3 separate regions of the Homo sapiens genome follow, and all the other regions are linked to region 2. Evidence: fine-mapped expression QTL. A gene starts in region 2. Each other region holds a variant in brackets. All regions are shown on one strand. Distances are from middle to middle.

Region 1 (9,762 bases), 73 kb before region 2:
GTCCTTCCGTCAGCCCCCAGCGTCAGCACCCATGACCTCATCTAAGCCCTCTTGGGCCGGTTTCCTTCCCAGCTGGCAGCCTTGCCTGGAGCCCAGATAGCCCAAGGCCTCTCCCAGGAAGGTCCCTCCCAAAACTGTGCTCAGTGTCAGCATCAGTCAGGATGCAGCGCGGACAGGAATGGGAACTTCCGGAAGCATCACTGTCCATGTGTCAGTGTCTCAGAAGTGCTGAGGAAATGAAAGTCTCACACAGAGGCCTCGCGTCATGACAGCTCGCCTGGTCCTCTCCCCCACTGGACTGTAACCCGAGGCAGCTGTGAGAGCTGAATTTGCCTCCTTAGAACTTCTGACACTGGGGGAGGATGGACAGAGGAGGGTTGGCTAGTAGTTGGGCTCCCTGATAATCACAGTTGCTTCTTCCTGAGCACCTATGGGTGCTCCAGTGGTCGGATCCTCCTGGTGACTGGAGGACGGTGTGATCACTGCAGCTCCTCTGGAGGAAGGAGGCCCAGCAGTACGGGGATTCACCCCGATATCCAAGCCCTGCACCCCATTTTCCCTCCAGGCATCTTGGGTCTGCCTCTCCCATGAGTGCCAAGTCCAGGCCGAGGTGTGGCCCGTTCCCTAGGAGTCATCCTCCACGGGCCGGGGGAGAAGCTGTGAGGGGTTGGGGCCCCTTTGGGAGCTGCCTTTGAGGGCACCACAGGTGACAAGGACCAGGGTCCCAGAGTACAGAAGGCCACACAGTCACCTCCTGCAAAGTGTCCCACCTGCTTGGTAGGAGCCCAGTGAGGCCAACCGCCCTGCTGGGCTGGCTGTGTTCCAGGAGCCCACCGCTGAGCGTGCACACAGCGTCGACCCCCGGGACGCCTGGATGCTCTTCGTCAGGCAGAGTGACAAGGGTGTCAATGGCAAGAAGAGGAGCAGGGGCAAGGCCAAGAAGCTGAAGGTGAGGCCGGCATCCCGTCAGTGCCAGGCCGTGGGGGGTTCCGCCTCCTCGCTCCTCATCCACTCCCACTCCTACATCCTGAACATTTCCAATAGCACACCCCTCACGCCTCGGCCTGGGGACAGAGAACAGAGAGAACCCAGGCAGCCCCAGGGGGAGCCCCGAGTTAGGGGCCTGGTCCCAACCATTTCCCCACACCCCTAAAATGCCAGGCTCTCCCTCTTTTCTCCTCCCTCTGCATCCAGGCCAGGGAGGCTGGGCTAGCCCAGGCTGTGGTGAGAACCTTGTCCACACTGGAGGGGCCTGCAGGAGTGCCTGGCTCCCAGGGACTAGGGGCACAGGGTCCCTCTCACCCTCACTCAGCCTTAGGTCTTGGCCTGGGCAGAAACTTGGTGCTTGGTCCTGGTGCTGCCTCCTGCTTGGAGCCCCCAAAATGGAAAATACGGGGTGTGGGCTTCTCTGTCCCCTGGGGGCCAGTATCACCTGCCTGGGATCTGAACACACGATGGAAGGCCAGCTCGGAGTGCATGAGGCAGGTGCACAGGCCGCGCTGTCCTCGTGGCCTGGCCTTCTACCTCTGCCCAGCCTCCTGGCCCTGCCCTAAGCTTCTCCCCACAGGGGGCTCACTGGCTTCTGGTTCGGGTCCCAACCCAGCCTAGTGGGGACCTGCTGATGGTGGACTCGGGCCCAGTGCAGACCCTGAGATGCAAGTCCCCAAAAGCAGCCTAGAGTCTTCTTCCCTCCACGAGGCCTGGCCGCAGGAGCGGGCTTCAGCCCTCTGCCTCCCCACTCAGAGCAGAGTCCTTCCCTGCCAAAGCCCCGCCCCGAGGGCCCCCACCTCCAGCACAGTCCTTGTACTCACTCCAGGAGAAGCTTTCACTGAGGTAGATCCTTGGCTGGAGGTTGGAGCCCACTGGGGAGCTCTGTTGCCTGCCTCTTAGTGGCAAGAGCTTGCACAGGGGATGCTGTGGCTCCCAGCCTGCTCCTCACATGTCCTCACTGCCAAGGTTCCCTTTCAGTTCGGCTTGCCAGGGCCCCCTGGGCCTCCCGGTCCCCAGGGCCCCCCAGGCCCCATCATCCCACCCGAGGCGCTGCTGAAGGAGTTCCAGCTGCTGCTGAAAGGTAGGGGTGTGCACCGGCTGGGACACACACACCCCGCTGTGAGCAGGGCCTGGGAGGGTGTCCCGAGGAGCTGACAGGGCCAACCTCAACACTTCGGCGGGCACCCAAGGAGGCACCTGCTCTGGGCTGGACTCAAGGACAGTAGAGCTGGCCAGGTCCAGTCTCTGCCCCATCTTGGCCCATGTCTGCCAAGGGTCAGGGCTGGGGATGGCTGGGGGTTGGGAACCATGGCCAGGAGAAGGCTTCACAGAGGAAGGTGGACCTGGCCACTCAGTATGGCGGGTGCTCAGGGACCAGCGCCTATGCCCTGCCTGGAAGTCAGGAGAGCCCAGCGAAAGGCAGAGGCTAGTGTATGGGGCAGCACCAGGTGGAGCTCAGCCTGGCACCCACAGTCACCACTGGCCAGGGCTGGGGCAGCCTGCCCTGGAGGAGGCAGGGCTGAGTGGAGCCGCGGAGTCCACACTGAGGCCTCCTGCAGAGCGGCGGCTCACATTAGTCATTAGAATTGAGCCGTTTTTTCCTTTTAGTTCAATGTCCTGTTCGTTTAAATATAGCACCTTCTGCGCTGAAGAACCTCCTTGTACTTCCAGTAAAGCTGCAATCGCTTATTTTACCCCCAGCGTCTTTGGAAAATGTGGGTGGGGTAGAGGTGAGGCTGGAGGCCAAGGGCGCTGGGGCACTTCTGCCCGAGCTTCCCAAATCTTGAGGGAAACGGGAGCCGCTGCAGGGTCAGGACGCAAAGACTCCGAGGCCCTTCAGGCCGAGGGGACGTCGCCCTCGCCCCACCCCTGCGCCCGGCAGGCCCCTGGTCTCGCTAGCACCTGTCGTTCAGGGCTGGACCCACGCGGCGGGCGGGTGAGGGGTCCCTGGCGCGCGGCCACCGCTCGCTCTGTGCCAGGTGCGGTGCGGCAGCGGGAGCGCGCGGAGCCCGAACCCTGTACGTGTGGCCCCGCCGGGCCGGTCGCTGCGAGCCTCGCCCCGGTCTCGGCCACCGCCGGGGAGGACGACGACGACGTGGTGGGGGACGTGCTGGCACTGCTGGCCGCGCCCCTGGCCCCGGGGCCGCGGGCGCCGCGCGTGGAGGCCGCTTTCCTCTGCCGCCTGCGCCGGGACGCGTTGGTGGAGCGGCGCGCGCTGCACGAGCTTGGCGTCTACTACCTGGTGAGTGCCGGCGCGCGGGAGGGCGGGTGAGTCCGGCCGGGCGGGAGCCGGGGTGACCATCCGTGCCCCTCGCAGCCCGACGCCGAGGGTGCCTTCCGCCGCGGCCCGGGCCTGAACTTGACCAGCGGCCAGTACAGGGCGCCCGTGGCTGGCTTCTACGCTCTCGCCGCCACGCTGCACGTGGGTGAGGCCCGGGGCGTGGGAGGATCGCCCGCTCTGTCGCCCACCCCGCCGCCCGCCCGCTTGACCACGTCCCACCCTCCCCCGCAGCGCTCGGGGAGCCGCCGAGGAGGGGGCCGCCGCGCCCCCGGGACCACCTGCGCCTGCTCATCTGCATCCAGTCCCGGTGCCAGCGCAACGCGTGAGTGTACCCCGGCCCGGACCCCACACCCGCATTCGCTCGGCCTCCACAAGCTGGAGGTGGTTAAACAGGCACTGGACGGGGCTTCCGCCCGTTCACACCCCACCGTGGCCTAGGTGACCCCACACCTTCTTCCAGGTCTCCCGGTCTACTTCTGCCCCTATCAGGCCTTCCCTTCACAGCAACTGGGAGCTGTTAAAAATGACCTTTCCAGCTGGGCGCGGTGGCTCACGCCTGTAATCGCAGCACTTTGGGAGGCCGAGGCGGGCGGATCACGAGGTCAGGAGATCGAGACCATCCTGGCTAACATGGTGAAACCCCGTCTCTACTAAAAATACAAAAAATTACCCGGGCGTGGTGGGTGCCTGTAATCCCAGCTACTTGGGAGGCTGAGGCAGGAGAATGGCGTGAACCCGGGAGGCGGAGCTTGCAGTGAGCAGAGATAGCGCCACTGCACTCCAGCCTGGGCAACAGAGCGAGACTCCGTCTCAAAAAAACAAACAACAACAACAAAAAAAAACCTTTCCAGGCCACTCCCTGCCCAGACCTTCACCTCCTCCCCAGGTCCTAGGAGGCCGGGCTCCTCCTAGCCTCCCAACTCCTTCCCACCTCAGGGACTTTCATCTTGGGGCTCGAAGCACCAGTGTTACTTCAAGAGGCCTCTCCAGACAGCTTTCTGGAGGCCCCCTCCTCAGTCGCCCTCCCACTCCTCACCCGGGAACTTTCTTCCCCATGATCGCATCCCTTGCTCCTGCACCATCTGGCCCACGAGTGCAGTGACTGTGAGCTCCCTGTCTCCCCACACCCAGAAGGGAGCCCAGGTACAGCGGAGATACCCTGCGGGTAGGATAGCTGGAGCAGACTTGAATGAATGGATCAAGTCCAAAACTTCTTAGTCTGCCTTTGAACCCCCAGAGTGTGTTGGCCTGAACTAACTTAGCATCACCTGCCACCACATCCCCACTTCCGGCTGCATCAGCCAGTGTCCTGTTTCCCATCAGAGCCAGGGCTTTGCTGCCTCTTGCTGGGCCCTCGCCTTGCCTTTCCCAATACAGCAAGCATGCCTCTGGCCCTGTGTCCTTCCTCCTCTTGGGGACTCGGTTCAGACACCACCTCCACTGGAAGACCTGGCCAGGGTCAGGCACTTTGCTGGGCATGTGTTGGCTGCTGGCAGGATTGTGTGTCGTAGGTGAAGTTGGTGGGGTCTCATGGGGCAGGCTGACCCTCCCTCTGTTTTGGGTACAGCTCCCTGGAGGCCATCATGGGCCTGGAGAGCAGCAGTGAGCTCTTCACCATCTCTGTGAATGGCGTCCTGTACCTGCAGGTGAGTGCGGCAGGCTTGGGCATCGAGGGGCACCGCCTGGGCATGGCCACGGGTGGCTGGGTGCAGAAGGGTGCTGTTAGATGCTCAGGATCACTGGGTCGGGTGCAGCACCCTCAGACTCCAGGCCTGGGAGAGGGTCCAGGACATGCCAAGT[T/G]CTCACTTTGGTCTGGGCGCAGCCAGGCTTCAAGTCCTGATCTCCTTCCTCCAAACACAGCCCTTCCCCGAGGGCACCTGCCCGCTTGAGCAGCTGCTCCGCTCTGCATTCCCAATATTCAGACTCCCTGAGCACCTCATCCTGAGGCCCAGTACTCCTGGCCACCACAAGCCCGCTGAAGGGACTGGTGCAGGGAGGGAATGGAGGCCAGCACTCTGCCCAGGCTGACGCCCTGAGTCCCCTGTGACTATGGGAAGCCAGATACGTTATTTTCCTACCCAAAACCCTAAGTGACCATCTCTGGCACTGTGGGAATTTTGGCAAGTGGTAGAGAAATGGACATAAAGGTGGAATTTACTAACAAAGAAAACAATTGAGTGCAGGTGTGTGGAATAACAGCTGCTATTGAATTCTCCCAGAGCTTTGGAGAAGGTAGAGCTACTCCCCGAGTTAGCCCAAGTTCACACAGCAGAGCCAGAAATGGAGGCCAGGCTGTCTGGCCCAGAGTCTGTGCTTGCTGAAAGGCATTTAGAGGTCCCTTCTGGGTGCCACACAGCATGCTTGGTGAACTCAGATGGTCTCTGCCCCACCTGGATCTTAAGATGCAGATCCTGAGGCAGGTCTGGGTGGATCCCAGATTCTGCATTTCTGGGAGTTCCCAGGGAATGTGACACTGCTGGTGCATGACCACGCTGCTGGTGCATGACCACGTTTGGAGCAGCCAGGCTAGAGTGCTGGTTTCACGGAAGGCTCTGCCAAATGACTGCCTGTGGGGAAGGGCCACCCTCCCACCTGACTTGGAGCCCTTGCAGGCTCTGAGAAGCCCTGCAGCTGAGAAACCTGTTGGACTCTTGAATCCCACTCTGGCCTTGAGCAGGGGCCCACTCCCACACACGCGAACTGTAGGGCGCTGCAGGGAAAGCAGAAGAGGTGCTGGGTGGGGCCCAACCCGTGCGGGCCCTTGCTCTGTGACCTTGGCGGCCACATTCTTCTCTGGGCCTGAGCCCTTCCCAAAAGCGGGGCTGAGTGGGCAGGAGGGAGTGTGGCTGGCTGGCCCTTGGGTCACCTCTGCAGGCTGTTGGGGTGGCCCAGTGCCTCAAAGGCACCCTCCTTGCAGATGGGGCAGTGGACCTCCGTGTTCTTGGACAACGCCAGCGGCTGCTCCCTCACAGTGCGCAGTGGCTCCCACTTCAGTGCTGTCCTCCTGGGCGTGTGAGCGGCCACCACAGGCCCTTCCTCTCAGGGGCAAATGGAGCACAGATCTAGACAATGTGTGGACAGTGTCAGAGTAGCAGTGGCCACATGGAGGAGGAGGCCCACCCGGAACTCTGCCCACACTGGCCACTGCAGTTCAGCCCACAGAGCCACTGCAGGCAGGCCTACGGACGTGACACGCACGCTGGTGGTCCCGGAGCCAGGGTTGATTCAGGACACCATCTTGGGCTCTTATCCAGGAAAGAAAGAGTCGGCGTGCCTGGGGGCACCTGCTAGTCTCCAGCTGCAGGCCGACTCTTTCCTGGCCTGCTCAGCACCTGCCCAGATGGCCTCTGCGTCTTTCCTGTGCCCAGCCCCACCTTTTCCACCTCTCTTCATGTTCTCATGGAGTGCAAAGTGCACCAGCCAGGGCCCCTACCTGGGAGAGGGTCAGCTGACGCAGGGCTGAGGGGGCTGCCACAGGGACGTACGCTGTGTGTTCTTACTGCTTAGAAGGGACGGGGTCACTCACCACTCCCCTGGTCTCCATCTGGGCTCCTTGGTCTTCCCTGCCCCTCCCCTAACCGTGTTCTACCTGCCAGTGGAGCTGAGCACTGCCTAGCCTGGGCCAGAGGGGCACTGGACAAGGGCCTTTGGGGGACAGTAAGTCTGGGCCCAGCTTCTAGTTCTAATGTGTGCAAGATTAACTCACAAATTCACCTCAGAAGGCCTTTCCAAATGGGAGCTCCACTCTTCCCCTCCTCTGCAAATCTTCACAGCCAAGGCCCCTTCCACCCTCTCCAGAGGTGGATGAGATCCCTTTTCCCCTCCCCTCTGAGGTGCTGACTCACTGGTAGGAGCCACCCACCAGAGGAAAGATCTAGAACGTCTTTACAGATTGGAGACAGCCGGGCCTGCTGACCCATCATCCGAATAGCTGAAGCAGAGTCTTCCACCAGGGGTGCCAGGGCCTGGCTGGGTCCAGCGGCTCTGGGATGAGCCTCCCAAGCATCTTTCCCACTTGGGTGGCCATGCGGCGCTGACATTGGACAGGTGGTGGACGAGAGATGGTCCCGAGAAAGGGTGGTCTTGGGAGGGCTGGTCCCAAGCCTGCTGTGCTCCTGTGGCAGTGATGGGGCCTGGGGATGGGGACGGCAGCTCTCATGAGGACACACAGGCTGTGAGCCCGCAGCCTCCTCAAATGTAGCCTCCCACATTTTCCCCAAAGTACAGGACTGTCCCAGAGTAGGTAGTGAAGAGGACAAGGCCCTCGGCAGCGACCTCCAGGGCCTCCTACCTGCTGAGGAAGAGTTAACCCACTGCCTCCCCACACAACAGGCTACGAAGAACCTGGTGCCTCAGGACCTCCTGGGAGCCAAGCTGGTCTGGCAAGGGCGCTCAGGCCTGGGAGAGAAGGGAGCAATGGCCAGTCACCTTCACCTTCTAACTAACTAGCCTCCGGATGAGGTGGCTGCCACCAGGCCCGAATGATCCCCAGGAGCCCAGCTTCCAAACCCCAACATCGAATCAAACATCTCCATCCCCAAGTGCAGTAACACACAAAAACCAAACACTCTGCCCTGGGAAAGGCCTGGTGCGATTCTCAGTAGGACTCACACCCACCCTACCTAGAAGTACTGGGCTGGCCTGGGTACTGCATCCGTGTGTTTTGATAAGGGGGTGATGTGGCCACGCCCTTATCTAGATTTCACTTTGTATCCACTGGGCACAGATATTCTAGAGAACTTATCTTTCACTCTTGTAAAAGCCACATATCCACATCTCTTTCATTTTTCTCAGTGTGTTATGCAGCAATTTATTAAAGTATTTATTGTCTAATAAATACTGCCAAGTGGAATATATTTATATAACTGACTTCGTGGGGTGGTTCAAGTACTTACTTAAGAACTATGTGACACAACAGTTACAAAACAAAAGGCAGACCTTAAGATCCGGAATCAATCCTTTAGCCCAGGTTCACTAAACTAAGCACAGTAAGGAGGAACCTGGAAGGTGAAGTGGAGATGGCCTCCAGCCTCTACGTGGGAGGGACTCCCTTGAAGGCTGGGAGTGAACCTTCCTGGGAAACTAGGGTCAAGCCTCTCGGGAACAGTGGGACATAGGGATGTATGAGTCACAGACATCAGTGTGCAAACACCTGGTTTGCTATAGGAAGATAGTTACCAAATGAATGGTTCTATTTCCTGATTCTGGGGTGCCAGGGCTCTTTTCTTCAATGAGGCCACACTGTACAATGTCCCAGTCCTCAAACTGAAATGGGTACTTGGCTCTTAAAACTCCCTGGGGAAGGAAGGGGCAGCACCAACACTTCGTTCAGTTCTTACTTGTGGCTTTTACACAACAGACCCCCAGGAGGCATCTAAGGTTTACATGAAGCCTTTACCACTGAGGTCCTCGCAGCATGGATACCAATTCCACTCAATCAACTGGGTGATAAAACCATGTGTGTGTGTTGGGTGGGGGCCAGGGAACATTACAAAACAGATTCTGAAAACGCAAATTTTTAGAATCTTACATCATCCTGAGCCAAACATTTACACAAAAGGATCCAAGAGCTGCTTTACTAAAAACTACTTACAGTCATAATGATGACGTTTTCTATATAAACAAGTGCTTGAAAAGTATTTTAAAGCTTATTCTTCTGAGCTTATTATTCTTCATGCACTCTTTTCATGCTTTTAACATCTTTAACAGAAGTGTCCCCCTTTGAGGTGTTATTGCAAAGATTAACCTCATTCCAGCACAGGGCCAACTCCCCACACCTACCTCACGTGGGAAGCAGAATTTCCGGGCCATGCTGAGCAGCCGGCTGCCTGCTCCAACAGGAAGGTGCACACCTACACCCAGGGAGTCCAGATGGAAGCCACTGAACCGAGTCCTCCACAGACTCCTTCCACCAGACTGCAGCTCTCACCAATGGAATGAGAATGGCTAATTCTGTACTGTTTCTGGCAGGTCTGATGCATGAGTAACCTTGTCTATGAGTCTATTTCCTGGCTAAGCCTGAGCTCATGCTATGTAACATTTTGCAACACTATTTCCATAGGGAAAACTGAAAAGAGCTAGAGGGTTCCCAAAGCCCTGGTCTGGGCCTAGCCTTGACTAACCAGTCATCCCCTGGGTCTCTTCATTGCAACATGCCACTTCCCCAACCAGGGTCATCATGACAGTGAAAGCACAGCAAAATGCCCGTGAACTACAAAACATCACACAACCAGCAGCCTGCAGGCCACTACGAGCCAGTCCAAGATGCCTATAATGGTTTTAACAAGGAAAGACAGCATATTCAAAAGCAAACACAATCTCTGAAGGGTCAAGAGGTGCTCACAGTATAATAACTCAAAAGACTAGGAAAAAAAAAGAGAAACCTTTATTTACAACCATGGGAGTCCCACAGGAGTACACAAAACACACAATGTGCACACACACAAAATGAACCTTTTAAGTCAATACCATGCGTGCTCCTGGCCGCGCGC
Region 2 (9,762 bases):
GGACATCCACATCTGTTGGAAGACTTTGAGTTTTTGTTCTTAGATAACCCACTTTATTTGAATGTGTTAAGTGAAATGATACTTGTACTCCCCCTACCCCTTTGTCAACTGCTGTGAATGCTGTATGGTGTGTGTTCTCTTCTGTTACTGATATGTAAGTGTGGCAATGTGAACTGAAGCTGATGGGCTGAGAACATGGACTGAGCTTGTGGTGTGCTTTGCAGGAGGACTTGGAAGCAGAGTTCAGCAGTGAACTCTGGTGTCTCAAAGAAGGGTAGAAGTTCTAATGTCTGTTAGCTACCCATAAGAATGCTGTTTGCTGCAGTTCTGTGTCCTGTGCTTGGATGCTTTTTATAAGAGTTGTCATTGTTGGAAATTCTTAAATAAAACTGATTTAAAAAAAAAAAACCAAAAATCTAAGTAAAGGGGTCGGAACTACATCTCCCAGGAGGCCCCGCGGCTCGCCTCTGGCGGGGCGGGGCTGGAGGGGGCGTGGTCAAGGCCTCGGCTCCTCCGAGCGCCTCCCAGCTCACGGCGCCCCCCGAACCCGGCTCCAAGGGACTCGGTATTCCCCAGCGCCGGCTCCGGGCAGTCCCGGAAGGGCTCAAGGGCTGGGCGACTGGCTGATCGAGACCGTCCGGGTCCTGGCTCTCGGGTCACTTGCAGAGGCCTGAGCAGAGCGTAGGGAGGGCTGGAAGGGAGGAGCCCCGGGGGGCGGCGGTGCTGAACCGGGTAGAGTCTTGAAGGTCACGGTCAGGACTGGAGTGGGAGGGGAGTCAGAGGCCTGCTGCGGAGGCCCAGGTTAGAAACGAGGCTGCCTTGGACTCGGTCGGTGGCAAAGAAGACGACACGTGGAGGCAGGGCTTAGAAGTAGAGCTCCGCCGGGCTTGGTGGCTCACGCCTGTAATCCCAGCACTTTGGGAGGCCTAGGCGGGCAGATCACGAGGTCAGGCGATCGAGACCATCCTGGCTAACACGGTGAAACCCCGTCTCTACTAAAAATAGAAAAAATTAGCCGAGCGTGGTGGCTGGCGCCTGTAGTCCCAGCTACTTGGGAGGCTGAGGCAGGAGAATTGCTTGAACCCAGGAGGCGGAGGTTGCAGTGAGCCTAGATCTCCCCCACTGCACTCCAGCCTGGGCGACAGAGTGAGACTCCGTCTCAAAATAATAATAATAATAATAAATTAATAAATAAAAATAAAAAAGAAGAAGAAGTAGTGCTCATGGGCTTGACTGATAGGACGTGGGATGGCAGGAAGAGGGTGAACTTGAGGGTGACATCTAGATTTTTTTGCTCAATCCATGGGGTACCAAGAAGTGGTAATGCCTGAGGATCTGTTGTTTTGGTGGTGGTGTGAGCCCATCTGACATCTAAGTGCAGTCACTGAGTGGACAGGAGGATACAGAGGAGCCAGCCGCCTGGAGAGGGGCTTTGAATCAAGGGCATGGGATTGGCAAAACGGGCCAGATGGTGTCACTGGGTGTGGGGGCGGCAGGGAAGGCTGAGGACAGAGCCTTGGGAAGAACACGTCCAGTTGGAGGGCGGCAGGGAAGGCTGAGGACAGAGCCTTGGGAAGAACACGTCCAGTTGGAGGTCGGCAGGGAGGAGCATTGAGTACAGGGGACTGAGGATGGCCGATGAGGTAGAAAGAAGGCTGGTGTGGTGCCCTTGAGACTGGAGAAGGAGCCTCCAGATGGATGAGTCATAACCCACGAGAAGTGAAGCTGACATGCGGACATGCCCACTGGGTTGGGAAACATGCTCGTTACTAGAGATTTTGACTGTGCAGTTCCAGTGGAAGGGTGGACAATAGCTTGATTGGAAAGGAATGAAGAGGAATGGGATGCGTGGAAGTGGAGGCAGTAAGTGTAGATGACGCTTTCAAGGAATTTTGCTTTAGAGCATTGAGACAGAGGCTAACAGTATGTCACATCCAGGGAGGTTCTTCCGAGTAAAGGTATTCATATTACAGCCCGTTTGTAGGTTAATGAGAATGATCCAGAAGGGAGGAGAAGCTAATGGTGCAGTGGAGAGCAGAGTCCCTGAGCAGGTGAGCAGGGATGGGGGCCCATGCCCATGTCGGAAGCGGGCGCCACACTGCTTCATGATGGAAGGCAGAACGCCTGGGCCAGGGTGCAGGCAGGTGTCACAGAGAATGTCCTTCATGACCACATCCTAGTTCCCAGAACCTGCGAATATGCTACTTTACATGGCAAAAGGGAGTTTGCAAATGTGATTAAGAATTAAGCTAAAGACCTTCATACAGGGAGATTATCCTGGATTCTCCAGGGGGCTGGTGTCATCACAAGGATCTTTAAAAGTAGAAGTAAGGAGGAGACGTGACCAAGGAAGAAGGGTCAGAGAGACGCAATGCTTCCGAGGAACTCTGAGGATGGAGGAAGGGACCATCCTCCAAGGAATGTGGGTGGCCCCTGAATGAAGAGGCAGGAGAAGGCACACAGCCCTGCCTGCCAACACCTTGATCTTAGCCCAGTGAATCCTGACAGACTTCTAACCCGTGGAACTGCAAGACAATAATCGTGTGTTTGAAGCCACCAAGAGTGTGGTCGTTGGTTTTGGCAGCCATAGAAAAGTAATACAGTGGGTCAGGGATCCGGGTGGGAAGGAGACAGCCCTCAGAGAAGGGATCCGGGTGGGAAGGAGACAGCCCTTAGAGAAGGGATCCGGGTGGGAAGGAGACAGCCCTCAGAGAAGGGCTTGTGGGGAGCCTGGGGGTGCTGGGAGAGGAGCTGGTGTGAAACAACCAGCTGGCTGGGAAGCTGGTGGCCCCAGGCTGCACCGCAGGCAAGAGCAGCTCTCAGCCCCAGGAGGCCAACAGTGGTCACTGGTGTGGGAGCCAGTTACATTTCCAAAAGAAGCTGCACTTGAGGATTACTGTGAAGCTGACTTTAGGGCTGGAGGGGCACAGGGCCAGAGTTCTGGGTTAGTGGCTTCTGACTCTGGTCCTAGCAACGCTTTTACTCCAGGTCAGCCTCCTGCACCTTGCCTCCTGGGCTTCCCCTTGACCCCCTCCTAGGGCATCTGGGAAGGTGTGATGAGTGGACTTGAGAGGTGAAAGTTGTTCCTTTGAAGCAGTCCATGGCTGATGCTCCCTGAATGGCATGAGAGCTCATTGGCATGGCCTCTGGGTGCTACTGGAAACCAGGGCTTTCAGGATGGCCCGTTATCCATCCGTGTCCTGGTGGGTACATCCTACATCAGCCTGTCTGAGGACATTAAAATAATCCCAGGAATGATATTTCCATTGCTCAAGACTTCTTCTGTGGCACTGGCTCCCCCACTGCCCCAATAGCTCGGCTCCAGATGATAAAGCTGCATCTGGTTATAGCCCAATGGCTTCTATGATTGAATTGAGGTGAGCCAGAGTGAACCTCAAACTTTGAAACACCCCTGGTGGCCAGGACCTGCTTGGGGGCTTTTGTAAAGGGGCTGCTGGGAAAGGTGTTCTTAAGGCAAAAGCACATGTCCAGAGAGGAGACCCCGACGTCAATCCTAAGTTGTCACACCTTGGCCCTAGCCTGGGGACTGCCAACCCACAGTGAGAAGCTGCTGCTTTGGGGTCCTGGAGCAGGAGGAGGGGGCTAGGCTAACTGTGGCGGTGACTTCAGCCGGCTGACCACGTGCTATCTGCAGGTCTGGCCGAGCCCAAGAGGGCAGGCTCCCGCACCCCAGCTGCCCATCCTGCCACCCTCCATCCCTGAGGGTTCTGACCTCCTGGACCCAGTTTGACCTAACGCTCAAGCCCCCTGGGGCCTTGGCGCTTTCATTTCAGGCCACAAACTGGGTGGGTCTCCTTGACCCTGAAGTCAATGGCAGCAGTGGGGAAGTTCCTTCTTCAGTCAAGATAAGCAACAACCTCACACAAGTAGACTCATGTCTATGTCATGCTCGTGGGTCCTAAAACAGGTCTTTAAAAGATACTTTCAAACCAAATAGGTAGCAATTAGGCATTATTTTATTATTCCTGAAGCTCATGAACAAGAAAATGGCACAGAGACAGGTCATCTCCCTATTGCTGAGTTACCCTGGAGACAAGCCTCATGCAAACAAACTCCTTCTCCAGGACACACAATGCCCAAGAACAGGCTGGGTCTGAGGACCTGCCTAGCATGGGGGGCAGAAGCACTGCCTGCTGCAGAGACAGCCACGGAGTGCATCCCCACCACCATCACACTGCTCACTCTGCTGAGAAAGGGTGAGGTTTTAAAGGACATTCACCAGCCTCAGATGCAGGGGAAATGTGCTTAGTTTAGCATTTACATATCTTGACACAGTAATGACACATCACTCAACAATACTTCAAGGGTAACTAACTCCAAAATTCTTTATTTAGTAAAATTGTCACATTTGATGTCAATGGAATACACAAACTCAAGTGTGCTACAAACAAGATGTACAGAGCATCACAGCTCTGGGCAGTGCAGCTCAGTGCACCTGCCTCTCATCTCCCCGCTGAAGTGGCAAGTTCAAGCTTTTGTTTAGCCCAGGGCTGCCTGGAACACTAGTGCCCAGCACCATTTCTGCCACCTCTGCCCCCAGAGCCCGCACAGGGCTGGTGAAGCCTGGGTGGGTGAACCTGGGAGAGCGCTGGCAGCTCTACAAAATTCTTCCTCCTGCCCGTAGCTCCCTCCCTCCACCCACTCCAGAGCTGCAGGGTCCCTAAAAGTTTCTTAAGAAACGGGGCTGGGGCCTGACTGGGCTGGTTACCAGGGGCTGCCCTGCAAGCCATCCATCAGAGGAGGGAGGGAAGACCTGGGAGACTTCCAGGGCCCTACCCCACCACATCTGAACCCCTGGGAGGAGGGAGGAGATCCAGGGAGGGCCGGGCCCACCCCCGCAGGACTCTGGCTGGCATTGGTCACCAAGGCCTCCAGACACTCCGGGCAATTTGGGCTGTGGTCAGGCTGCCCAGGGCTGCGGGCACCAAGTCGGGCCCCTCAGCAGGAGCCTGACTCAGTTCAGCCTCAGGGGCCTCCTCCAGGTCGGAGCACAGGTCGTCCCCAGGACCCGGGGGGCTGGGTATTGGGGATCCCGGAGCGCCCCCCGCAGGCCAGCCACTCCGTCCAGGGGCTCTAGGTGGCCCCGCCAGGGCGTCCCCCAGCAGATCCTGGAAGCTGCTGCCCTCACGCAGCGGCATGGACTCGAGCAGATGGTTCAGGAGCTCGGCAGCGACGGTAGCGTCGATGGCCTGGCACGTGGACACGAACGTGTGCACCTCGTGCATGCACTGGATGTAGCCGGCAGCGAAGCGCTCGCTCGCTTCCGCCTGCAGCTGCTCGCGCTCTGGGCCCGAGGGTGGGAGGGAGAGAGCCGCGTCCCGCGCGGTGAGCGGCGACTGCGTGGCCCAGCCCACCCGGCCCGCGGGGACGCGGCTCACCCAGGAGACGCGGGGGCGCACCCTGCTCCGGTGGGAGCCCTCGCCGCCGACAGGACAGGGGCGCCGGGAGGGAAGTCCTCCGTCTGGCAGGGGTTACAGGCGCCCGCGGCCGGCGCCCCCGCCCGCCCCGCCGCCACTCACCGCGCGCCCGGCCCCGCAGCACACCCTGGACCCGCCGCACCGTCAGCTCCAGCACTTCGGCGTTCTCCAGCTTGGCCTGCACCTGCGCGGGCGGGAAGGGCGGTGAGCCGGCAGCGCGCTCCCGGACCCGCCCGCCCGCCCCGCAGCCCCACGGCGCCTGCCCGGCCGCCGCACCTCGGCGCCCGCCAGCAGCAGCCGCAGCTCCTGCAGGCTCTCGTTGATCCGCGCGCGCCGCTTCTTCTCCACCAGGGGCTTCCGGGCCTGCGGGGAGCGGGGCACTGAATCCCAGCCCCGCACGGCCTCCCGCCCGCTTGCTCGCCCATGGCCCCGGCCCGCACCTTGCGGTCCCCTCGCGTCTCCCAGCCGTCCTCATCCTCACGGCCCACACGGTCCCGGCCAGGCGCCGCGGGTGGCGCCATGCCCGCTCCGCCGGGGACGCGGCAGGGGCTAGGAGCAGCGGGGACGGGGAGCGGCGGGGACCGGAGTGCCGGCGCCCTCCGCTGCCCCGCGGCCGCCCAGCAGCAGCCCAGCCGTCCGCGCTCCTCGCGGCTTCCGGCCCGCCGCGGTCCCGCCCCTTTTATAGCCGCTTATTTGCATCTCAATGCGCCGATTGGCCGCGCGGGCCCGGGGCGGCCGACCGCGAGGCGCGCTGCAGCCAATCGGGGCAGCGCGCTTTGTCCGGCCCAGCGGCTCTGGCGGTCGGGCAGCTGGCTGAGCTAGGCGGGGCCCCCAGCCCGGCCTTCCCTAGACCCCCGCGGGGGCGGCACCGGGGCGGCGACCCCGGGTAGCTGCGGCCCTGCCCGCGCTTGTTTCTCTCCGTCTGCTGCTCTAGGACCACTGATCTGCCGCGCGTGCGAGCAGGCGTCCACCCGTCCGTCCGTCCGTCCGTCCACTCATTCATTCACCCATTAATTCATTCATTTCCCTCCTTCGCCGATGGCGCCTCCAGAGTTGAGCGCTGGGGCCACTGGCCCCAGGAGATGCGTCCCTGGTGTGCAGAGCCACAGTCAAGTCCGCGGTCTCTGGACCTAGAGGGGTTTCAGGTCCCGGCTGGGGTGGCTGCCAAGCCCCGGGGAGGCAGGGTCCATTGGGCAGCGGTGGCGGGGCGGCCCCTGAGTTTCTTCCGGACTCGTCCAGACGCCGGGCCGGACCCCCGACGCCGCCCTCCGCCAGCACTGGAGTCCTAGTGGGGCGGGGTCCCGGGTGCTCCCGCCCGCGCCGCTCTCCCCCTGGGCTCTGCGGGTCACCAGCCCCGCCCCCCTCTGAGCTCCCCCATCTCCCTCTAGTCCCCTTTGGCCCCCGGGGCCCCCTCCCTCCCTTCCACTGCCCCCCGCCCGCCTCCCTCCTCCCCTCCTCGTCCTCCGCGCCCCGCCTCCCAGGCCCGCCGAAGCTGCCGTCTGGTCCTGTAACTTGATGCCCGTGACAGTTGGCAGCTGCGGCCGCTTCGGCGGAGAAAAGCGAGAAAAGCGGCGGCCGCGCCAAGAGCGACAGGTGTTGGCCGCGCCTTTGTCTCGCACCCTTTGTCCGGCGGGCAGGCGGCGGGCGCTTGTCCCGGCCAGACGCCCGCGACTCCCCCATCGCGGCGGGCCGCCCATCTGCTGGGTTCCTCTTGGCCGCGGGCGGGGTGCGTGGGCGGTGGGGCCGCGCCCTCGGGCAGCGTCCTGGGGACCCCTGCCCGGCTCCTGCCCCGGCGTCAGTCCAGACGCTGTGTGGAGGAGCCGGAACGGGAGACGCCTTCTCGGACCCCAGCCGGCCGACTACCAGCCTGCCCCGCACAGCACCTGCCTTCCTCAGTCCCCACTACTCACCCGGGCTGGGATCGTCAGGGTCTGTTCTGAGCCCCTCCAGGCTATAAGCGTCCCTGGACAAGGGCACAGTCTGACCTAGGACCCCCTGTCCACCTCCCCGCACCCCCAGCAGAGCCTGGCCTCACAGAAGCGCTGGTAGGTAGGGAAGGTGAGGGGTGGCCCTGGCAGGATGGGCTGGAAGGCCGCGTGGGAGGGGAACATCACGGGACCGCAGCAGCTGAGCGGAGCGGCAGGACTAGGCTGCAGACCGACCGCCCCACTGCCCCTAGAGAGGTCTGACAGGCCTCCCATGGCCCCTTTACTTGCGCCTCTCCACCAGAGGGACCCCTGCAGGCTTCCTGCTGGGTGAGTTTGGTGAGAGGTTTGAAAGCTCCCAAAGTCACCTCACTGACCTCTGTAATTACCTGGGACCCCCTCCCGCTGGCTCCCAACTGTCCCTGCTCTGGCTCTTGGTTGCTCTATGAGCAGGGTCCTGAGACTTCCCCCAGCCCAGCATCACTCACCTGGGTGTGAAACTACCGCTTTACTTCACACACTCCCCACCTGCCCAGTAGTGGGGCTGGCAGGGTGGGGCTGGAGTGGTGGATCCCAAGGAAGTGGATTATTAGCCTGTGACTTTACTCTCCTTCACCACTTAGACATCACCCCAGGGAAGGAGAACCTCCACTCCCCCAAGTGGCTACAATGACATTTCCACTACTTCGAGAAACTGTGATAGGGAAAAATAAACTCACTGATATTTCCTGTACTCCCAAGTTTGCAAACTGATTTACACTCCTCTCATTATCCAAACGAACAAGGCCAAGTAGATGTTTTAGGATGCTCTCATCCTAAAACATCTGCTTTATGTTAGGCAATTTATATTGCAACAGGATGATCAGGGCCCCAAAAGAGGACTTTGGGTAAAGCCTGACTGAACACTTGATTGGATGGGGAACTGGATTTGAGGGGCAAGGAGGACATGATAAAGGCAAATGGTGCAAGCAAAAAAAAAGAAAGAAAAGCAACTAGGAACTCTAGGAAAAACAAAAAGCTTCCCAAGAAATGTAATCTTAGCACATTACTTGGCTCAGGAGACAATTTTCACAGTCACAACAATGTAACAGTGTTCATAGGGTTTTAACATTTAGAATTAATCTATACAGAAGGCAAGGAAGGATTGTTTATGGTTATGGGACATGATATAAAGTTGACCTTGTAAAAACAAAAGGACAGGTGATAGGAGTTATGAGAGAGGAGGCTAAAGGGAGGACTAGGGACCTCAAAAGCCTTGTCTGACAGTGGAGTGGGTGGAGGGTTGAGGAATGCTGTCTAGAGTTGAGGGAGGGAGAAATTAAGCACTGGGATATGCCTCGGTGTGACCAAGGATCCTACAGGGAAAAGAGCTTAAGTAGAGAAGGCTGTACATCAGCAAAATCCTTCTTGGTTGGACTGGAAGTTGCCCAAGGTCCCCTCTGCAAGGTCAGCTTCAATTCCCTTTAGCGGTGCACTGGCCAGCTGGCATGGCCTTTTTGTCCCAGAAGCCTGGCCTATCTTGAGGTCACCAAGCCCTCCCTCCCTCCTTCACAGCAGCCTCCCCTAGCCAACACTTCCTGCCATTTGTCCCTTGGGCCAGTCCTGCCTTCAAAGTTTGCCTGAGTATGGACTTCCTGAGCATTTGAGTCCTTTGATCCCCCTAGAGCCAGGAACAGAGGCCAGCAGAGGCTGGGCAGGGTGGTGGTTGCTGCGGGGATACCAGTTAGCAGTGGGGGTGGCAGGCCATAAATCCCTGGGGGAACAAAGGCAGCTGCGGCCTGTAGACTGTCCAGGCCCCTTGTGGGCAATCTGCCCAGGAGACTCAGAGAATCTCCGTTTGGTTTGGAAATAAATCCCTTGGGGTTATATGGTAAATAAAAATACAATTAAGAGTCTTCCAAAAGCACTCAGGTTCAGTGAAACAACCATATCTGGCCATTTAGAGCAGTTTGCAGAGGCCTCTGTGCTCGCTAGGGAGGACTTTGCCTTTTATCCCATCAGCACTTGGCGTTAGGCAGCCAGGCTAGCAGGCAGAGGAGAGCCCCTCCCTTCTGCTCAGGGAGCTTCTCAGAGGCTGGGCATTGGGTTCAGGATCCATTCAGCTCTCTGCTCCCACCCCCAGGGTCATGGTTTGAAGAGTGGGAGGGATGGGGAGCAACTCTTCGGGCTTCCACAGTTTTGGCCTCACAAGGCTTCATTCATCACTGTGAAAGAAGGGCTGGGGTCAGGGGACTATGCCGCCCTGCCCATATCATTCGCAATGGAGACATGTGACCTTCCTGGTGGAGCCTCCTGACCGCCCCACCTTTAGCCCTACCTAGCCCGATGACCAGAAGACAGGCAGCCAGCCTGGAAAGGCCAGGTAACCCAGGGCAGGGATGCAGGGAAGACAGAGGTGC
Region 3 (9,762 bases), 53 kb before region 2:
ATTTAATGATAAAAGCTGAGAGTGGGGCAGCCAGCCCTGGCCTCAGGCAGGAGAACAGACCACGACAGGGCTCTGCTGCTCAGGGGCAGCGACCCACGCTGCTGGTCTCTTAGCCTCAGCCCTTCTCTGAGATGAAGGAGTCACCCAAAACCCACACTGTCAAATGATTTCTCTAAGGCATGTAAACACTTCTCTGAATCAGGTAAGGACTGGGATATAGGAAGCAACTGCAACACAACTGGCCTTACTTTCAGCCATCGGACTGTCAGTATCCAATTATTTTCAAGGAGTTCAGGCAAAAGCAGAATGAATGTAAAACTTACAAGAAAGGGGAGAAGAGGTGATGCTTACGCTCATGTTAGAGTCACATTCTCAGGCATGACTGTCCACAGTAGTTACCAGGACAGTAGTTACGGTGGCAAAAACTGGGCCAACAGCACTGCTTGAGGCCTGAAACCAGGCCTATAATCCCATCACTGCTCATGTAAACTGCAGCGACCGTGAATGAAACTGCTTCTTACTAATCCAAGAGCTTTTTGAACAAACGCTAAGGGTTCCAACTACTCTCCAGAAACCTCCCTGTACCACTGACTAGATTCAGCCTGGAGCAATAAAAAAGGCTTCCCCAAATGAACAACAGAAGAGAAACTACACTTCAAAGGATAGGTAAGTGCAGTCTTATACTAAGAGATGACATCTCTCTTATCTCTGGCAGAAAATAAAATTTTAATAGTCAAACTGTACAACAAACCAGAAAATACTCCTGGTCTAATTCATAATGCAATGTCCTTGAAGTGGAATTCTAAAGAAAAGACTTATGCCCTCCTTTAGCTGCCTTGGATAGAAGCAGATAATAAAACCAGAGCAGACATATGGTTTTCAAAGATTTAAAGAGAGAGTGAAATGAAACTGCAAAAGACAGAGCCAAGTAAGACATGGTCCTCTGTGCCAGTTGTTCCCAAGAAGTCCAAAGACATTACTTAACCCGTCTTAACTACTTCAGATTTTCTCTCTGGAGAATTCACCTAAAACTGTAACTTATTCAATGTGAAAAGTGACAGGTTTTTTTTTTGGTTTTTTTTTTTTTTTGAGATGGAGTCTCGCTCTGTTGCCCAGGCTGGAGTGCAGTGGTGCGATCTTGGCTCACTGCAAGCTCCGCCTCCCAGGTTCACGCCATTCTCCTGCCTCAGCCTCCCGAGTAGCTGGGACTACAGGCGCCCGCCACCACGAAAAGTGACAGTATTTAAGAAACTTCCTAGGCACAGAGAAAACACTGTGAATGGTAAATATGAATTTGTCCTTTTGCAAATGTAGGGAGGCAAGTTTCCTTCCACGTGGACACATGTGAAATCTACAACTGTCATCCACCTATGTCACCAGTGTTAGATCTCAGACAGAGCCTCGTCACACTGAAGACTACGTAACAGGGGAAGTTCTACTCCTTGAAGGTCTCGGGACCCTTCTACAGCTAACAGCCCTCCTTCCCATGAGCTCCTCTCAGTCCCTTGGTTACCTGACGTTTCCTCCAGCCTTCTGTATCCTCATCCGCTCTTCATACTGAGTTGGATTATGCTCTTTGCTGAGGCTTAAGGCTGCATGTTTTTGACTCTCCTCATTATAACGACACAAGATTGCCTGGGAAGATGGAGATTGTAATAGTCATGAAATTCAGTGGGCGCAGCATCTAAAGGTACCAGTTGAAAAAAACAGTTAACAATGGAGTTTGAAGAAAACAGTTAACAATGGAGTTTCACATTCAGCCTCCTGCTGATAAACGTAAGTTCAGAGAATCAAGCAGCAAAGAAGTGTCAAAGACACAACAGTTAGGGAGAGAGTCGCCCCTGGTTTTGATATCAACTCTGGTACAAACTCTGCTGAATAACTACAGACAAGTGCTCACTCTGGCTGTTGTCACATTTGTGACATGAAAGGAAGCACTCAACAAGTATCAAGGTCCCTTTTGGCCTGGAGTCTAGAAGGCCAGAGACATGTCCATGAGCCTATGGAAGGCAAAGAGGAGGGCAAGCGTTGTGCATGCTGGCCGAGTGCCAGGTAGGCCGTCCACACCAGTGCCTCCAGGTGTTCTCGCCCCTGCCAGGTTCATTGTGTCTGTTTTACAGGAAGACACTGAGGCACGAAGAATAAGTAACTCAATAAAGTCACAGAGCAGAGCCAGGATTCAAATTTGGGTCTGACTCCTGTCTTTGTTTTTTTGCCAATTTTCCTCTTGCTATTTCTGAAGTCATGTGGTCTAAACACATGTGGGCTAAGGCCAGTCTACTAAAGGGCCACCAGAATGTAAACTCCACCAGGCAGGGGCTGTCATCTGTTATAGTCTCTGCCATACCCCTAGCACTTAGTATTTGATGAATCATCCCCCCAGAAGCATCGTGGGGAGGGGTCTAAAGATGCTGCTTAAGTGTGGACAGTCACTTGATTCCTGTGACTGCCTAGGGAGCAAGGAGGCCGGGTGAAAAAGCGGCAACGGAACGGAACACATGGTCCTGATGCAGAGGAGGCAGGGTCTGCATCCAGCTTTCCGCAGCAGCACCCTCTAGGCTTTACAGCATCCCCACGACTGTCACCAGGGGGAACAACACCCTGGGCTTTCTCCCTCAGCCAGGGACCGGGCTCGGGTGATGAATGGCACCTCATCTGGTATTTTCTAGCTACAGCTCTCAAGTTACTCTGAAATCACAGTAACTTTGATAGGCAGGGGTTAAAGCTTTTCATTCATTACTGTCTAAGGTCAGAGAAAGGAAATAAAAGAAGATTTAGGCTACTTGCATACTGATTACATTCTGATCCACAGCATCACACACACAAACCACGGGAGGAAAAAAGAAACAAAAAAGACGGGATCTGGGTTTTAAAGCACAAGTCTATCATAGGGCGTAAGTTCCCCAGAGAACAAACAGCCTCTAGCTGAGTTGCTGTTCCCTTACCCAGAAGTTAAACTGCAGCAGAACACTCTGCAGCAACCCCAGAAGAAAGGTTTCAACCAGACACCATCACTTTAATCTTATTCAACAAGTACGTGCTAAAGTCTTTTCCCCATAAAACGTATTGTCATCTAAGTGGGTGGCTCCAGAGCCACATACCCGACTATCTCCGAGGTTGGCAATATAAAGAATGTTGTCTACAGCCAGAACACACGTGGCAGTGGACCCATCTTTCCAGGCAGGCTTCCTGGGGGGAAACACATCAGAAACACAGTCACCACCAATAGCCCAGCACTTTGAGACTAATTTCCAGAGCTCAATGGGAAGTATCTTATATTTCAAAATGAACCATTTCCTTGATACTTGCTTTTTTTCTGTTTTAGATTTAGCTAACGGTTATAAAAGCTGAGTGCTACGCACTTTTCAGACAGTGAGCAATAGTGTTAAACCACATCAGAAGACTGAAATGCATTTAGGAAAACACCACACACAGTCCACTCAAACTTCATCATCAAGTTATACTTACTGGCTGGAAGCTTGTTTAAGGAACTCTTCATCAGTATGCTTGAAAGTGTCCAAAAGGCATCTCTTCACGGTTTTCTCTACACTGATTACATCTCCTATTACAGAAGGGCCAAAAGAAAACAATCTCTCAAGGAGGGAAGATTATCCTCCTCCCACTGTCATTTTGGTTTGTTTTTTGTTTTATTTTTTTGAGACGGAGTCTCGTTCTGTCACCAGGCTGGAATGCAGTGGCGCGATCTCAGCTCACTGCAACCTCCGCCTCCCAGGTTCAAGAGATTCTTCTGCCTTAGCCTCCTGAGTAGCTGGGAATACAGGCGCGCGCAACCATGCCAGGCTAATTTTTGTGTTTTTAGTAGAGACAGGGTTTCACCACATTGGCCAGGCTGGTCTCGAACTCCTGACCTCGTGATCCACCTGCCTCGGCCTCCCAAATGCTGGGATTACAGGCGTGGGTCACCAGGGCTGGCCATTTTGTTTTTGTAATTTCTGCACATCAATTGATTTTCAAGCATGATTAAGAACAATCCCTATTTCTTTCCTTTTTTAAATTTTTTTTTCTGAGACTGGGTCTCACTCTGTCACCCAGGCTGCAGTGCAATGGTGCAACTGTGGTTCACTGCAGCCTGAACCTCCTGGGGCTCAGAAAATCCTCCCACCACAGCCTCCTGAGCAGCTGGGACCACAGGCACATACCACCATGTCCAGTTAGGTTTGTTTTTTTTTTTTATAGAGATAGAGTCTCCCTATGTTGCCAGGCTGGTCTCAAACTCCTGGGCTTGAGTGATCTTCTGGCCTTGGCCTCCCAAAGTGCTGTGTGAGCCACCGTGCCCAGCCAGAACAATCTCTGTTTCTTTCCTCACATATAACACAGTGCTATTTGAAGTTGGTTTACTAGTTTTCCAGTAAAGGCAAGACACTAACTGAACCCAAAGACGATTGACAAAAGGTGCCTATCACTTAGAATCATGAGAAGTGCCATTCTAAGTCACACCTGCATGGCCGCTACTCCTGGAAGCCTTGGCATCCACTCCTCAGCACCACTCTTTTAAGACTCATCAATGATTCTCTGCTAAAGCCAAAATAACACATCTGACTGCTTCACACAGCCAACCAAACAGCAATAACCAATTTGAGTATCAACTGATTTAGTTCTCAGTCTCACCTTTAGGAAATTTTCTGATTAAGTTTTGATGCAAATTCTGTGCAGCAAATTTTGAGGCTCGAATTCCTCCATGTCCATCAAAAACAGCAAAATATGAAACCCGAGTACTGAAAGAACGAATTGAGAGTTAATCAAATTCTCACAGCAAAAACCACACTTTTCCATTAAAGCTTTTAAATTTCGTCTCAAAGAGTGAACATTAATAAGTCAGAGGAAGTCACACTGGTTAAGACACCAGTCACACTGTTACAAATGGGAAAAAAAAGGCTTTAACTGAGACAAATATTTAAGTAACTTTCACAGCATTTTATCTTTTTTTAAAAAAAAAATACTTGTGTGTGGGCCAGGTGTGG[T/G]GGCTCATGCCTGTAATCCCAGCGCTTTGGGAGGCCGAGGCAGGCGGATCACGAGATCAGGAGATCAAGACCATCCTGGCTAACACGGTGAAACCCCATCTCTACTAACAATACAAAAAAATTAGCCGGGCGTGGTGGCAGGCACCTACAGTCCCAGCTACTCGGGAGGCTGAGGCAGGAGAATGGCGTGAACCCAGGAGGCGGAGCTTGCAGTGAACTGAGATCGCACCACTGCACTTCAGCCGGGGTGACAGAGCGAGATTCTGTCTAAAAAAAAAAAAAACAAAAACACTGTGTGTGTGTAGGTGTGGGAGTGTTTCTGGTGAAGACTGCAAGACCTGCTAAAGGTCTAATATTCTAAAAGAGATGTAACACTTTTCCCAGTATTTTACATTAAATGTTTAAAACTCACATTTGCTTCAAAGATCAAGATCTGTTAATTCTGATTTTTCACTGACAACAAAACTAAAATTCAGAACTCCGTTCCTATTTAAATCGGATTTGGTTTTAAACATTAACAAACAGATCAAGTTATTTATCGAAAACAGTAAAAAATACAGTCATGCATCACTTAACAGAAATGCATTGTTAGGTGACTTTGTTGTGTGAACATCATAGAACATATTTACAGAAACTAACACGGCGCAGCTTACTACACACCTAAGCTACATACATGGTAGAGCCTATTGCTCCTAGGCTAAACTGCACAGCATGTTACTGCACTAAATACCATAGGCAGTTGTAACACACTGGTAGTATTTGTGTATTTAAACATACCTAAACATAGAAAAGGTACAGTAAACATGGTATTATGGCTGAACACGACAGCTCACGCCTGTTAATCCCAACACTTCGGGAGGTGGCCAAGGCAGGAGGATCACTTGAGGCCAGGAGTTCAAGACCAGCCTGGGCAACATAGCGAGACCCCCATCTCTACAAAATTTGTAATCTTATGGGAGCACCGTCATATATGCAGTCCATCACTGACTTGATGTTGTTATTCAGCACATGACTGCATAAGAGCAGGGAGGATATTACAGAATTGTTACTCAAATAAATTTTAAATATCTCATTTTTAAAACCTATCTTACTACTCTTATTCCCATTCCCCTTTCAAATTTTGCCAGAAAACCCACATATATGGAATAAAAGACATCAAATAAACTATTTCAAGGAAAAAAAAAAAACAAAAATGCCCACGAGAAATGACATTTATTCTAGAGAGCTGCTTTTCTTTCAAGTTTTTTGGAATTCCTTTTCAATTTAGGACATCCTGAGCCATGAGAAAAAAAACCTCATCTGGTTTATAACTCAGAGCTGTTCTTACTGCCTGTTATTTGCAAGGCATGATGTAGTGTTCCCAATTAAATTTACACTCAATGGATCTGCCTTCTTGGGCTCCAGAGGTCCCTTTCCTGGTTTTAATGCAAATCCCAGGCTGGGTATGGTGGCTCATGCGAGTAATCCTGGCACTTTGGGAGACCAAGGTGGGAAGATGGCTTGAGCCCAGGACTCTGAGACAAGCCTGAGCAACTTAAGGAGACACTGTCTCTACAAAAAATTCAAAAAATTAGCCGGCTGTGGTGGCACATGCCTATGGTCCCAGCTACTCAGGACGCTGAGGTGGGAGGACTGCTTGAGCCTAGGAGGTCAAGCCTGCAATGAACTATGATTGTGCCACTGTACTCCAGCCTGAGCAAGACAGCAAGACCCTGTCTCAATGGGTGTGTATCTCGTCCCCTCTACATATGATCAGCTGCTCTGCAGCAGCCATCACCTCATCTCCATGAGCAGACCTCATCTACTGGACAAACGCCATCAGCCCAAACGGCTCCAGCACACTGTATGTTAATGACCAACTGGTGTCAGTAAAGGTACGTAATGTATTTATTATGTAATTCTGAATTATGTAACCTATGTAATATGTACTATAATGTATGTTTACAGCCAACTTAATGTCCTACCTTCTGGTTTTTTTCCAGGCCCAAGAGCTTATCCAGAAGGCTTCATTTTAGTTTGTATAGTTGCAGCTAATTTTTCATTGTCTGTCTTTTCCTTGACATCATTTTGACTTTTGTTCTTCCTGGGCCCTGATTATCTGTACTAGCTCTGCTTGATCACCATTCATACTTTAATTAGTGGCTTCCAACTCTTATCTTCTAGGTCATGGATTAAAAATATTCTCTGCCAGAAGCCGCTCAGTTGCTGGTAAGGAGTAACACACGCTGCAGAGCCATGCTATGAAGCGTCATCTCCCGCTCAGCAGGGCTGCTCAACCGCGACACTACTGACATTCCAGGCTGAACAATTCTTTGTTGTGGGGCTGCCCTGTGCTTCTAAGATGTTTACCAGCATCCCTAGTCTCTACCCACCAGATGCCAGTAACAACTCCCTCCCGCAGTTGTGACAAAAATGTACCCAAACACTGACAAATGTCCCCTGGGCGGGGAGCAAAATCAACCCCAGCTGAGAATCACTGATGTACAATCAAGTGATGTGTTAGATTTTCTAGTAAATACAAACTAGCCAGTCCAAAATGCCAGTCAGAACCCAGGAGATGTTAATGCCAGCCGGGCTTCCTACCACATGAGACTCACATGAGGGACGATGGGGGCCTACACTCCTCGGTGATGTCGTTCAGGATGACGTGGGCATCCTGCATCTCCTCCCTCTCACCCTTCCGCTCAGCCACATAGCCCTTCAGACCAAAGATCACCGAAGAGGCTAAGGAAAAGAGAACAAAAGAGCCAATACAAAACTGTGCCCAACCCTCTGGAAACCCTAGTCCCAGAGCAAATGAGAGGGAACTATGACTGTCTGACTCAGCAATATCCTAATGGCGCAAACAAATAAGCAATACCCCTTAAGGCATCTCCCCCAGCTGCAAGTCTATAACTCAAATCGGAGCACTGTTGGACAGGGTGAGCTCTAAGAGGTTGCACAGGGACACAAAAGAGGAGTCAGTGAGCACAAAACAACTCTGTCTAGGGTGTAAGTCAAAGCATCAGGGCAAGGGATGTGCTGCCATCCCAGAGAAGTGAGATTCAAATCAGGCAAAAGGATCATGTGCAAATTAGTCTTGTGATAATTGAATAAGGACAAATGCAAGTCAGGAGAGTTTATCTCAAAAGCCCTTAAGATGCCCTGAAAATATGTATTTCCATGCTCAAGGCTGGTGAAGAATTTGAACAAACAGTAAGATCAGCTGCTTTTACTTCAACTGAGGAAGAAAAGGATAAAAGATTCCAATGCAGGCAGAGATCTATTTACATTTAATGGTTAGACTCATTTAAGCTTATTTTCTGATACCTAATGCCAGACAAATAATAAAATGAACACTGTGAAGAGCTGTCTTCTGGGAAGTGACAAGCTAAGTTGAAGATGACATCTTCCCAGCAAAGCTACAAGTGGGTTTTTTCACATACCTCTGCCTGCATCATACAGCTTTCACTGAGGTAATCTGTGACAAAGGACAATGCAGTCAATGAAAATCCCACAGCTCGGGCCAGGCACGGTTGCTCACGCCTGTAATCCCAGCACTCTGGGAAGCCGAGGCGGGCAGATCACAAAGTCAGGAGATCGAGAGCATCCTGGCTAACATGGTGAAACCCCGTCTCTACTAAAAATACAAAAAACTAGCCAGGCGTGGTGGCAGGCGTCTGTAGTCCCAGCTACTCGGGAGGCTGAGGTAGAATGGTATGAACCCGGGAGGCGGAGCTTGCAGTGAGCCGAGATGGTGCCACTCCAGCCTGGGCGACAGAGCGAGACTCTGTCTCAAAAAAAAGAGAAAAAAAGAAAATCCCACAGCTCAAGAATACTTTAGTACCACAACTGAAGTATTCTCTTTAGTTAATACTTTTCGTTTTCTTCCTCACTAACTTTGACAAGTTACACAACTGACTACAAATTTCAACGGCTTTTTCCAGGCTTAGGGAAGCTGCCTACTAAGCTAAATCACGTAATTCAAAGCACTAATTGACAAACTGCAAACAAAGATTGGAAGTCAGAGAGAGACTAGGTGGTCAAAAAACTAACCATTCACTGCAGAAGGCTAAGAAAAAAACCACCTGTATTTTTTAACTCTTGAGGAACAAATGTAGGTTTCCTATCTGATCAAAGGTAGGATCAGAGATAGATGTACATGAAAAGTAGGAGAAAGCACAGAGAAACTTGGAAATTCATTTGCAAAAAGGGAACCCTACTTATTTCTTAAATACAGACATAAAAAGAAAGTATTATTAGAAAGCTGAAACTGGTTTTGCTCTGGGTTGTTTTAAAATATGAAGTCTAATACATTTGTTTTCAAATTGTCTGAAAACCTTTACAAACTTTCTTTTCCACAAGCTCTTCACTGCCATTCTTCTCTTCCTCGGAGGTTTTTCTCTTTGCTCCTTTCCCTTCAGTCTTTACCATCTGGGATATTGATGTGGCAAGAGAACCTGGAAATAAAGTAAAAGCCAGACAGAAACACAGCTGTAGACTGTTGGAAAAAGTCACTAGTAGACTGGGCTTCATCCTAGCACTCAAAGACAAGGTCATTTGAAGCAAGGACTGGCAGACACAGGCAGACCCAGGAGTTGTGTCTTCATGGTTGGCGGGGAGGGGGAGGGGGGTCCCACAGTGAGAGAACATAAAGTTAAGATCCAGGCCCTGAGTCAAACTGACCCTGCTGAAGGGGTTTGTAAAAGACTTTTCCCAGTGGTAAAAATACATGGTTTTTTTTGGCCTGTAGCATATACATGTTTTTATATCCACAGGCTCTTAGTGTTAAACAAACACT

Alleles and levels. Alleles are on the strand shown, and positions count from the first base shown. SD is a standard deviation of normalised expression in the study named. Not every link is listed here.
For the expression in thyroid of the gene that starts at base 6,092 in region 2, allele G in region 1 goes with a higher level than allele T (moderate effect, 0.43 SD a copy in GTEx).

What was found. PIP is the estimated chance that this variant, and not a neighbour inherited with it, causes the effect. A credible set is the group of variants that fine-mapping cannot tell apart.
Region 1: its variant is the best candidate, but not a certain one, in a credible set for the expression of HES6 in thyroid (GTEx, PIP 0.53).
Region 3: its variant is the best candidate, but not a certain one, in a credible set for the expression of HES6 in whole blood (INTERVAL, PIP 0.57).

What each region holds. Positions count from the first base shown.
Region 1 is chr2:238,160,768-238,170,529 of GRCh38, forward strand. ERFE (erythroferrone) reads left to right here. Exons shown (of 8, transcript NM_001291832.2): 2 at 827-949; 3 at 1,969-2,071; 4 at 2,970-3,232; 5 at 3,308-3,416; 6 at 3,503-3,593; 7 at 4,839-4,917; 8 at 6,189-8,123. The coding sequence ends at 6,287. ILKAP (ILK associated serine/threonine phosphatase) reads right to left here. Exons shown (of 12, transcript NM_030768.3): 12 at 9,635-9,762. Among named protein-coding and RNA genes, the nearest start is that of ERFE, 6.7 kb to the left of the region's middle. RefSeq lists an enhancer at 2,391-2,891. The variant T/G (reference allele first, on the strand shown) is at 5,072.
Region 2 is chr2:238,233,947-238,243,708 of GRCh38, forward strand. It overlaps HES6 (hes family bHLH transcription factor 6), which reads right to left and starts at 6,092. Exons shown (of 4, transcript NM_018645.6): 1 at 5,879-6,092; 2 at 5,715-5,801; 3 at 5,541-5,622; 4 at 4,321-5,305. The coding sequence starts at 5,959. The coding sequence ends at 4,881. It also overlaps the pseudogene TARDBPP3. RefSeq lists enhancers at 296-797, 4,523-5,091, 6,992-7,497, 7,498-8,003 and silencers at 498-627, 778-867, 5,815-6,334.
Region 3 is chr2:238,180,552-238,190,313 of GRCh38, forward strand. ILKAP (ILK associated serine/threonine phosphatase) reads right to left here. Exons shown (of 12, transcript NM_030768.3): 4 at 9,302-9,421; 5 at 7,580-7,706; 6 at 4,630-4,736; 7 at 3,469-3,562; 8 at 3,102-3,189; 9 at 1,514-1,635. Among named protein-coding and RNA genes, the nearest start is that of ILKAP, 18 kb to the right of the region's middle. The variant T/G (reference allele first, on the strand shown) is at 4,983.